Linked DNA regions of Homo sapiens: region 2 is linked to region 1. A link means that fine-mapping ties the variant in region 1 to the expression of a gene that starts in the linked region. Tissue or cell type: caudate. Region 1 holds a variant in brackets; the other region holds the start of a gene. All regions are shown on one strand. Distances are between the middles of the regions.

Region 1 (4,000 bases):
AGACTCCGTCTCAAAACAAAAAACCAAACAACAACAGCAACAAAAACATGTGGATGGAGATCTTATATTAGGAGATCTAATATTGAAGGATAAGGAGATTTAGCCAAATGAAAATGAAGAGGGGCTGGCTCTGTATTCTTTGACTGACTACCAAGTATAACACATTTATATTTAATGTGATTCATAAACTATTTGGACTTCTTTAAATCATCTTATTTTGTGCTTTATATTCTCCAAGTTTAACATTTTATTTTGTTTTGCTTTGTTTTTCTCATGTCCTATCTTTTATTAAGTGATTGAGTTTTCTTTATTCATTTATCTCATTTGATACGGATATAACGTGGGATATGATATGGGCTATGATATAGGATGCTGTTTCTATTCTCTTAAAGGTTATCTTACATTTAAAGAATGCCTATTTTGCTTAATAAAGCCTAAAGTTAATAAATATCTCTATTCCCTTTCTGAATAATAAAATGTCTTTAACTACTTTAACTCCAGGTTCCTATCTCTTATATTCCAAATACTAAATTAAACTTTGTTTTTAAATTTCTTTCCAGAAAATTAGTCATTTTAAGTAGTTTATTGAGTAAACCAGTTTTAGGATGCAAGCAGAAAGCAATTTTATTCTTTCTTATTACTGTTTTTTTTAAAGTTGCTCTATTAAATAAATATTTCTCATTCCTGAATGAAATCTAGGGTAGATTCCCTAGCTTTTCTGGTCACTCTAAAATATTAATTATAAGTGTCATTTTTTAAAATAATAAAAGTCCACTTACAGCTAATCAAAATTAATAATAGCTCCCATCCAATTTAAAGCTCCCTTCTCCCTCAACTCAAGCCTGACTCAGGCTGAGAGCCTGAATTTGGAAAATAGATGTGCTCAATTTTTAGCTATTTTTATCCCTGTCCTTGGTTTCATCCCTCAATAGCTTATCTTTTGCTTCCCCCAGTATTGGAGGTTGAAGGGGAGAAAACAGAAAGAAGTAGGTTTATATGTGACAAGTGTCTTGTGTGACAACTATCTCTTGGCTGTATAGTGATGTCTTGGTGATGGCACAAGCCCAGATGTGCCAGATCTTCCAAGGGATGTTTATGCGGGTTCCTTAAAGCCCTTCCAGTGACCGGATTCTCCCACCTGTGGAAAATGCCTTCTCGGGCTGGCCGCAGGTGGCTTTTGCTTCAGCCTCTGAGGCTCACCACACACAGACCCTCTTTTGGGGATTTTCTCCTGTTTCAGATGGGCCTTCTGCATAGGGTCCCATTCAGTGTGACTCAAATCTGGCTCTCGGGATCTGGACCTGGCCAGGTGATAGACATACATTTGTTTTGCCAGCAGTGGGAACACATCTCTCTGTTTCTTTTCTCCCATTCTGCCATCAGGAGAAGTTCCAGGCATCTTTTCAGCTTGAAATGTTTTCGGTTGTGAGTCAGCACTCAGTTTCTGTGCTCTAGAAAATCCAAGGGGCAGATGGTGTGTCGAGTTTTCTGAGCAGTCTCAAAGGCCCCTCTGTTAGCTTGGGAGAGGGAAAAGTGCTGCTCTTTCTTCCACCATACAGAGAGAGGTAAAAAACACAACACACCAATGATTCTTTCCAAAGAAGTCCTCACTCCTGATCACTCACTTACGGTCTTCTTATCTAACTTTTATATGCCCTGATGATAGCTAATGTTCCAAACCAACTTCACCATCTATAAGATAAGATGAGATGGTATTTATTGTTCTCAGCTTGGGGCTTTAGTCAAAATTCCAAGAAAGAACCCTATTAAATAGAGTGTTACATATTTTTTACTATTAATATACAGGTTTACCAAAAATTTTTATCATTTTCTTTACTCACCAGTGCTTCTTGCTTTGCCTTACTTTTGGTTTAATTTTCTTCCCCTTACTAGGCAATGTCTTCTAGTAATTGTTCCAGGGAGGCTCTGCAAGTAATGAGCTCTATCAGTCTTTGTCTAAAAATGCTTCTTTGTGTGTCTTTGCTCAGTTATTAAATGACAGAGTAGCTAGGTATAGAAGTGTAGATGAACAGTAGTTTTCCCTCAGCCCTTAAAACTCGTTATTCTCCTGGCATCCATGGCTACTGCTGGTAAGTCCCTGTTATTCTTATTCTTTTGTAGGTAATTTTCTTTTCTCTGTTATAGTTTTTAAGATTTCTCTTTATTGTTGATGTTCACT[G/A]TAAAGTTACTAGATGTAGATTAGTTTTTATTTATCCTATTTGGGCCTTTTTCCATTCATGTTTTTCTTGAATTCTGAAAAATTATCAGTCATTGCTGTTTAAATTTTGCTTCTTCCCCATTTTCTTCCTTCTATGTCTCTTAACTTTTCTTACATTCAGTCTCTGTATCTCTTTGAGTAATTTTCAGTGCATAATTTTCTGTTTCCTTATGTTTATTCTGCTATTTAACTTGTTCACTGAGTTTTTAAATTATATTTTTATTGCTAGAGTTTCAAATTGTCTCATTTATAAAATTGGCTTCTGTTTTTCTCTCACAATTTTTTGATGTCTATTGCTTTATATTTAAAATCTCATTTAACAGACCGCCAGGATACCATAGAGAGTAGGACGCCATTTATATAATAACACTCTTTGTCCATTGCTTTTGCCACAGCAAGGCTGACTCCTAACTCTGATCTCTCTCTCCTGTTTGAACTGTGAGCTGGTTTTAGTAGTGATTGTTTCCCCATGCAGTCTTGCATGTTGTCACCCGTGGAGGTGTCCATAAGGAGCAGTTTCATATTTATCTCTGAGGAAGACTCTAGAGTTTTTTTCTGGTTCAGAACAAAATGTTAATTTATCATTTTGGATTAATGTGCCCATGACTAGTAGAAATTTGGACCTCTTTTTCCCTGCACAAATGATACAAGCTTTTCATCAGGCCCCGCATGAAGGATAGGCTTCTTTGTCTCTTCCATAATTGACTCTTCTTTGTCTCTCTCCAGTAGGTTGCTGGAGTGATTTTAGTTTCCATTTAGAGACAAGACAGCCTTTCAAGACTTCTAGATTTATATAGGTGGATCCATTCCAGCTCCCCACATTGCTCACTTCTGAGGGTTTATTTTCTGTTTCTATCTGAGCATAAATATACTCATTTATTTATATACTGATCCCGAAACAATCTTTTAGTGTCTAATTCTCCGGCTTTGCATTCCCTCTTCGTTGGTAATTTTCTTTTCATTCTTTCAAAAATGGCCATGTATTTTAAATTATTATTTGTTTTCTTATCTGTAACATTTCCATATGCTTACAGTTGGCGAATTAGGGGATTCAAAGTCAACTGAATTCTTCATATTGGCCAGAAATCAACATTAAATTTCAAAAGTGAATTTGTTCTCAATGTGGCATATATATAGCTATTCAGAAATAAAATATAATAACAGACAAAGTAATGAACTATCAGAGATTTTCAGAGGTTACTGGGAAGGAAGAAATTATCAAAGAGGAAGCTGGAGGTTTGGTTCTCAATTTAACCTTTTTCTCTTCTTGGCATGTGAATGGAAAAAAAATCACATTATTCTACAAAGAATGTCTATTTCATATGTTTCAGAACCTTATTTGGAGCCCTTCATTTGCACCTTGGAGGAGCACCTGAGGGTCCAGCTGGCACTGGGAAGACTGAAACTACCAAGGATTTGGCAAAAGCTGTAGCCAAACAATGTGTTGTTTTCAACTGCTCTGATGGGTTGGATTATTTGGCTTTGGGAAAATTCTTTAAGGTTTGAATTAACTCCTCATTTCTTTACAACAGGATAACTGATCAGAGATGGTTATTTATGATGCAACATAATTGAATACAAGTAAAAGATTTACTGTAGCTTAAGTAAAAGTAAAAATTGAAGCACTATCTCAATAATTCTTAAAGGAAATAAGGTTATAGCAAAACCCTATTTGCAGAGAATCTCTACTTTCCTCTCCAGTCCCTACTGTAACAAGTCATTATTACTGGTTGGAATAAGTGGTGTCCCTTAAATACATTGGAGCAGATAAGAGTTTGAGAA
Region 2 (4,304 bases), 900 kb before region 1:
AACACATTCCAAACAGAATGATGATCTTCACTCCTCCATGCCTCGGTTTGATATCTTGGTGAATGGCACTGTAACCCACTCACCTGCATAACCCACGGACCTAGCAATTGGTTTTGAAACTCCCATCTCCTTAGCCCCCCTCCCCGTAGTACCCAGTACATTAACAATCCCTTATAAATCTCTCTCAGATCTACCCATAATCTGTGCATCTGTGCTAACATCGCCCTAATCCAAGTTAACATCTTTTCCTGCCTGGACTACTGTGTAACCACCTAACTGGCTTTGCGCAGCCCTCTTTTCTAGCTCAGTCTCTCCTCCCCACTGCAACCAGAATAACCTTTTAAAAATGCAAGTATGATCAAGCTTCTTTGATGCCTAAAACCCTTTAATCAGTTAGCATTACTTGTAGCCTAAAGATCATAATCTGACTACCTCTCCGGCCCCATCTTGCGTCAGGCATCCCACCTGCTCCCTCTACGCCTGGCATAATTTCAGTACCTTTAAAGTGCCCCATTCCTAGCACAGCTGTTCACCTTTTTAGACACACTTCTCCCTCTGTCTTCCTCAGGTTGCCTGGGTAACTCCTATTCAGTTGACTGGATGTAAGGTCATTTCTTCACAGAAGACTTCCTTGGCTCTCAGACTGAATCAAATTCCCTTTTTCTATACTTTCATAGCACTCGCTATTTCATAGAAATGATTGTTCACTTATATGTACACATTTGGTTGTACGATTTGATTAATGTTTGTCTTGCCCACTACTCTATTTTAATGAGGGCAAGGACTGTATTTATTATTCTTACCATTTCATCCTCAAATCCTGTTGCAGTACCTGGCACATAGTAGGCACTTTGTAAAAGTCTGCTGAATGAATAAACAGAGGAAATGAACAACTGAAGGGCAGAGGTCATAGTAACTTGCCCAGGGTCAAGATGGCAAGACTGAGACTATAGCCAGGTTTGCTAATTTCCAGTCGAGATCACCAGCCTTCTGAATAAATATCTTGTCCTAAATTTTGTTCTAAATCATTGGAACCAAAGCAACGTCACAACTCAAGTCCAATTTCTCGGCCTACCATTTTCTACAGATGGCATTTATTCAGCAAGGGAATGTTGTAGGTATAGTAATTTATCTTTTTTCCATGAAACATGTGTTATCTTCTTGCTCTATTTTGAAGAGATATTATGATAAATGATGCCACTATTTAAAACTTGTAAAGCTTCTTGAGGTTCTCAGAAAAAAGTACAAGGTATAGGTCAAAAAGAGTAATTTTGTCTCTCACAAAAGAATTTTCTGTTCAAAAAATGCTGTTAACTTGAAAAAGTCATATCTCCAAAAGAACGTTCTAATAGGTGGGATAATCATCATCATATTTCCAGCTATAATCCATCATATTTCCAGGTGTATCCCTTCCCTTAAAAGTAAAAAAGGAGAAAATCACTTTGCTGTGTGGAAGTGCTTTGTGTGTTTTATAAAATCCACATAAAATGTTCGTGGTTCAAGGAGTGGCTGCCGCATTTCTAAGGCAAATAAGCTTATCCCTGAAGAAGCTTGAAGATCTGACTCTCAAGAATCTTTGTGTTCTGGATGAAAAAGGAATCATTATTTTTTAACTCCCCTGCTCAAGTCAGTGACTTCCACTGGCACCCAATCCATTGGTTATAAGTACCCATGAATTGCCTTGCCAATTATAGGCAGGATAACCTAGGAGGACCAACCAAAACCAAACTCCTGGTAAGCTTTATTAGCCTTTTCTACAATGTGTCTCAGTTTCTCTTTCACACCTTGGAGTGGAAGACAATCTCTACTCACACTGTTGTGGTATGTGTCTGTCTGTCTCAGATGTGTGTATAAGGTGTATTTCTCAGCTCGGTATCTGAAGTAATTTCTTTTTCTTTTCTTTTTTTTAAAGACTGCTGTCTTAAGGCTTAAAAGTAATTTAAGGTTTTGTTTTTTGTTATTTTAAGAGTTGCAGTTTCTTTGGAGACAACAAAGTACTTTTTTTCCAAAGATGAAAAAGGCATATTCAGACTTTCTATGTTATGTTCCATAATTGTTTTGCTTATCACTGTATAACATTCTCATTATCATGGGCTACTTTAAGCTAATCAGTTGCATTTTGGGGTCCTCATTTAGAAGTCAATCTGGAAAAAAGATGGCTGTAAAACTTAGATAAACCAGTATGCTATTTCTCCTTCCTTGTCTGCCTTTACAGATGTTTCCTCTTTCTCTCTCTCTTCCCTGACTATCTCTCTCAATGATCATTGACAGCTCCCGCATCCCCTCTTTCACTCAGCTTCACTCCACCATGACCAGAGCACCTCTCCTGCTACTATGTGTTGCCCTGGTGCTGCTTGGGCATGTGAATGGAGCCACAGTAAGAAATGAGGACAAATGGAAGCCACTCAACAACCCCAGAAACAGAGATCTGGTAAGAACACACTTGGGGCCTGGGTTTCAGGATAGAACTAATGCCTCTTTGGATTTACGCACACAGCATTCTGTTTTCCAGAACGTAGTGGAAAGGGGGCTACCAAGGGTTGAGAAAATTCTCCAACAGGATTGGACCAGAGTTTTACTACCCTAGTGGTTGGCAACCTATTGTTTCTCTGGCCAGTTTACATTTGTTTCTGTAAAGAGAAACAAATTTATATTTAGAAACAATCTTATACACACATAGTACAATTCATTTGTAACTGATCTTATATACACATTGACTTTGTAGCCTTGATTTCTAATACATATAAAAAATAAAGAGTGTAACAGGGAATTGCTCGTGCATAGCTTAGATTGAACTGATGATAAAACAAGTTATCATATAACTAGAGATTGCCAAGCTCAGCTGCAAAAATTGAAAGTTGACCCTGCATGGGTATCAATTTACTGGACATATTTTCAACATATAGTTATCTATAAAATAGAATTCAAAAGATCAGTAAACATTCTCTTTAAAAAAAATGCCAAATACAATAAACATGTTGACATGACTATTTTGAAATATGGTTTTTCTAAAGTGAATGATGGGAAATATAACAACATAGGATTAAAATAAACTGAGATAAGAGACCAGCAGGATTTGTTTTCTGGTCACAGCTGCTGACGAAAACAGGATCTGGTCCAGACAGGATAAAGTGAAAACACTGGGTGAAACCAGCAGATGGCAACAAAAGTGGTCCCGACCTGCTCTCATTGCTCTTAGGATATGATCCTCCCCTCAGTGCCATGACAGTTTACAAATGTCATGGCAATTACCTGGAAGCTACCACTCCTTTCCATGGCAATGACCCAAAAGTTACCACCTCTTTCCTAGAAAGCTCTAAATAACTCCCTTCTGTTTGCATTAACCCATCCCTTAATTTGCATATATTCAAAAGTGGATAAAAACACAGTTGATAAGAGCCCATATGTTGTCAGCCCTAGGTGCACTACCTATGAATTAGCCTTGTTCTGGCAGGAGCAGTACCTTTCAATAAAAGATTGTTACCACAACCAGCCTGCCCTTAAATTCTTTTCTGGGCAAAGCCAAGAACCCTCCTGTGCTAAGCTCCAGTTTTGGGATTTGCCTGTCCTGCATCAAAGCAAGTAGCACTTCGCACATCTTCTGTGTTCATTTCCTAATGGAAATCTGAAAAGAAACTATTGCAGAAGGCAACAACAGAGATCTCATATTAAGGAAGAGGAGATACTGAGCTGCTTATTATGGAGTTCATTTTCACCTTTGACCTTAGTACTCAGAGATAGTTCACAATGAATCTTTCCACTGTGGTGCCGCTCCATAGTCTTCCTTCAATTTTCAGTAAGAATGGTGAATTATTTTGGTTAGGGTTGAAATGTCAGAAAGAAGGTACAGAGGAGGGGAGGAGAAGTAGCTGAAGCATGTACTTGTATTTCTAGATTTTGTATTTCCTGCCTCTTAGATTAGCCTTAAAGTCAATTCAGGGGAAAAATAGAGGGAAGAAAAACACCTTTATTTTTGGTGTTTCATTTATATCTGGCATTGACCATTTTCTTTCTCTCTTTAGTTTTTCAGAAGGCTTCAGGCATATTTTAAGGGCAGAGGTCTTGATCTTGGAACATTTCCAAATCCTTTCCCCACGAATGAAAATCCTAGACCTCTCTCTTTCCAGTCAGAACTTACTGCTTCTGCATCTGCAGATTATGAAGAGCAGAAAAACTCCTTTCACAATTATCTCAAAGGCTGAAAGTTTCTTCTGAGCTCAGGTAAAAGTTGGCCCTTTATTCTGGATCTGTCCAAACATACAAGTCAGCCATAAAGTAGATATTTTGAAAGTATTTATTTGAAA

Direction of the effects. Positions count from the first base shown, and alleles are read on the strand shown. Sizes are in standard deviations (SD) of each study's normalised expression.
For the expression in caudate of the gene that starts at base 2,290 in region 2, allele A in region 1 goes with a lower level than allele G (large effect, 0.92 SD a copy in GTEx).

The links. PIP is the estimated chance that this variant, and not a neighbour inherited with it, causes the effect.
Region 2: it holds the start of C2orf66, and the variant in region 1 is the best candidate, but not a certain one, in a credible set for the expression of C2orf66 in caudate (GTEx, PIP 0.89).

The regions. Positions count from the first base shown.
Region 1 is chr2:195,909,745-195,913,744 of GRCh38, reverse strand. It overlaps DNAH7 (dynein axonemal heavy chain 7), which reads left to right. Exons shown (of 65, transcript NM_018897.3): 25 at 3,550-3,718. Among named protein-coding and RNA genes, the nearest start is that of DNAH7, 160 kb to the left of the region's middle. The variant G/A (reference allele first, on the strand shown) is at 2,180.
Region 2 is chr2:196,807,341-196,811,644 of GRCh38, reverse strand. C2orf66 (chromosome 2 open reading frame 66) reads left to right here and starts at 2,290. Exons shown (of 3, transcript NM_213608.3): 1 at 2,290-2,431; 2 at 4,023-4,221. The coding sequence starts at 2,309. The coding sequence ends at 4,202.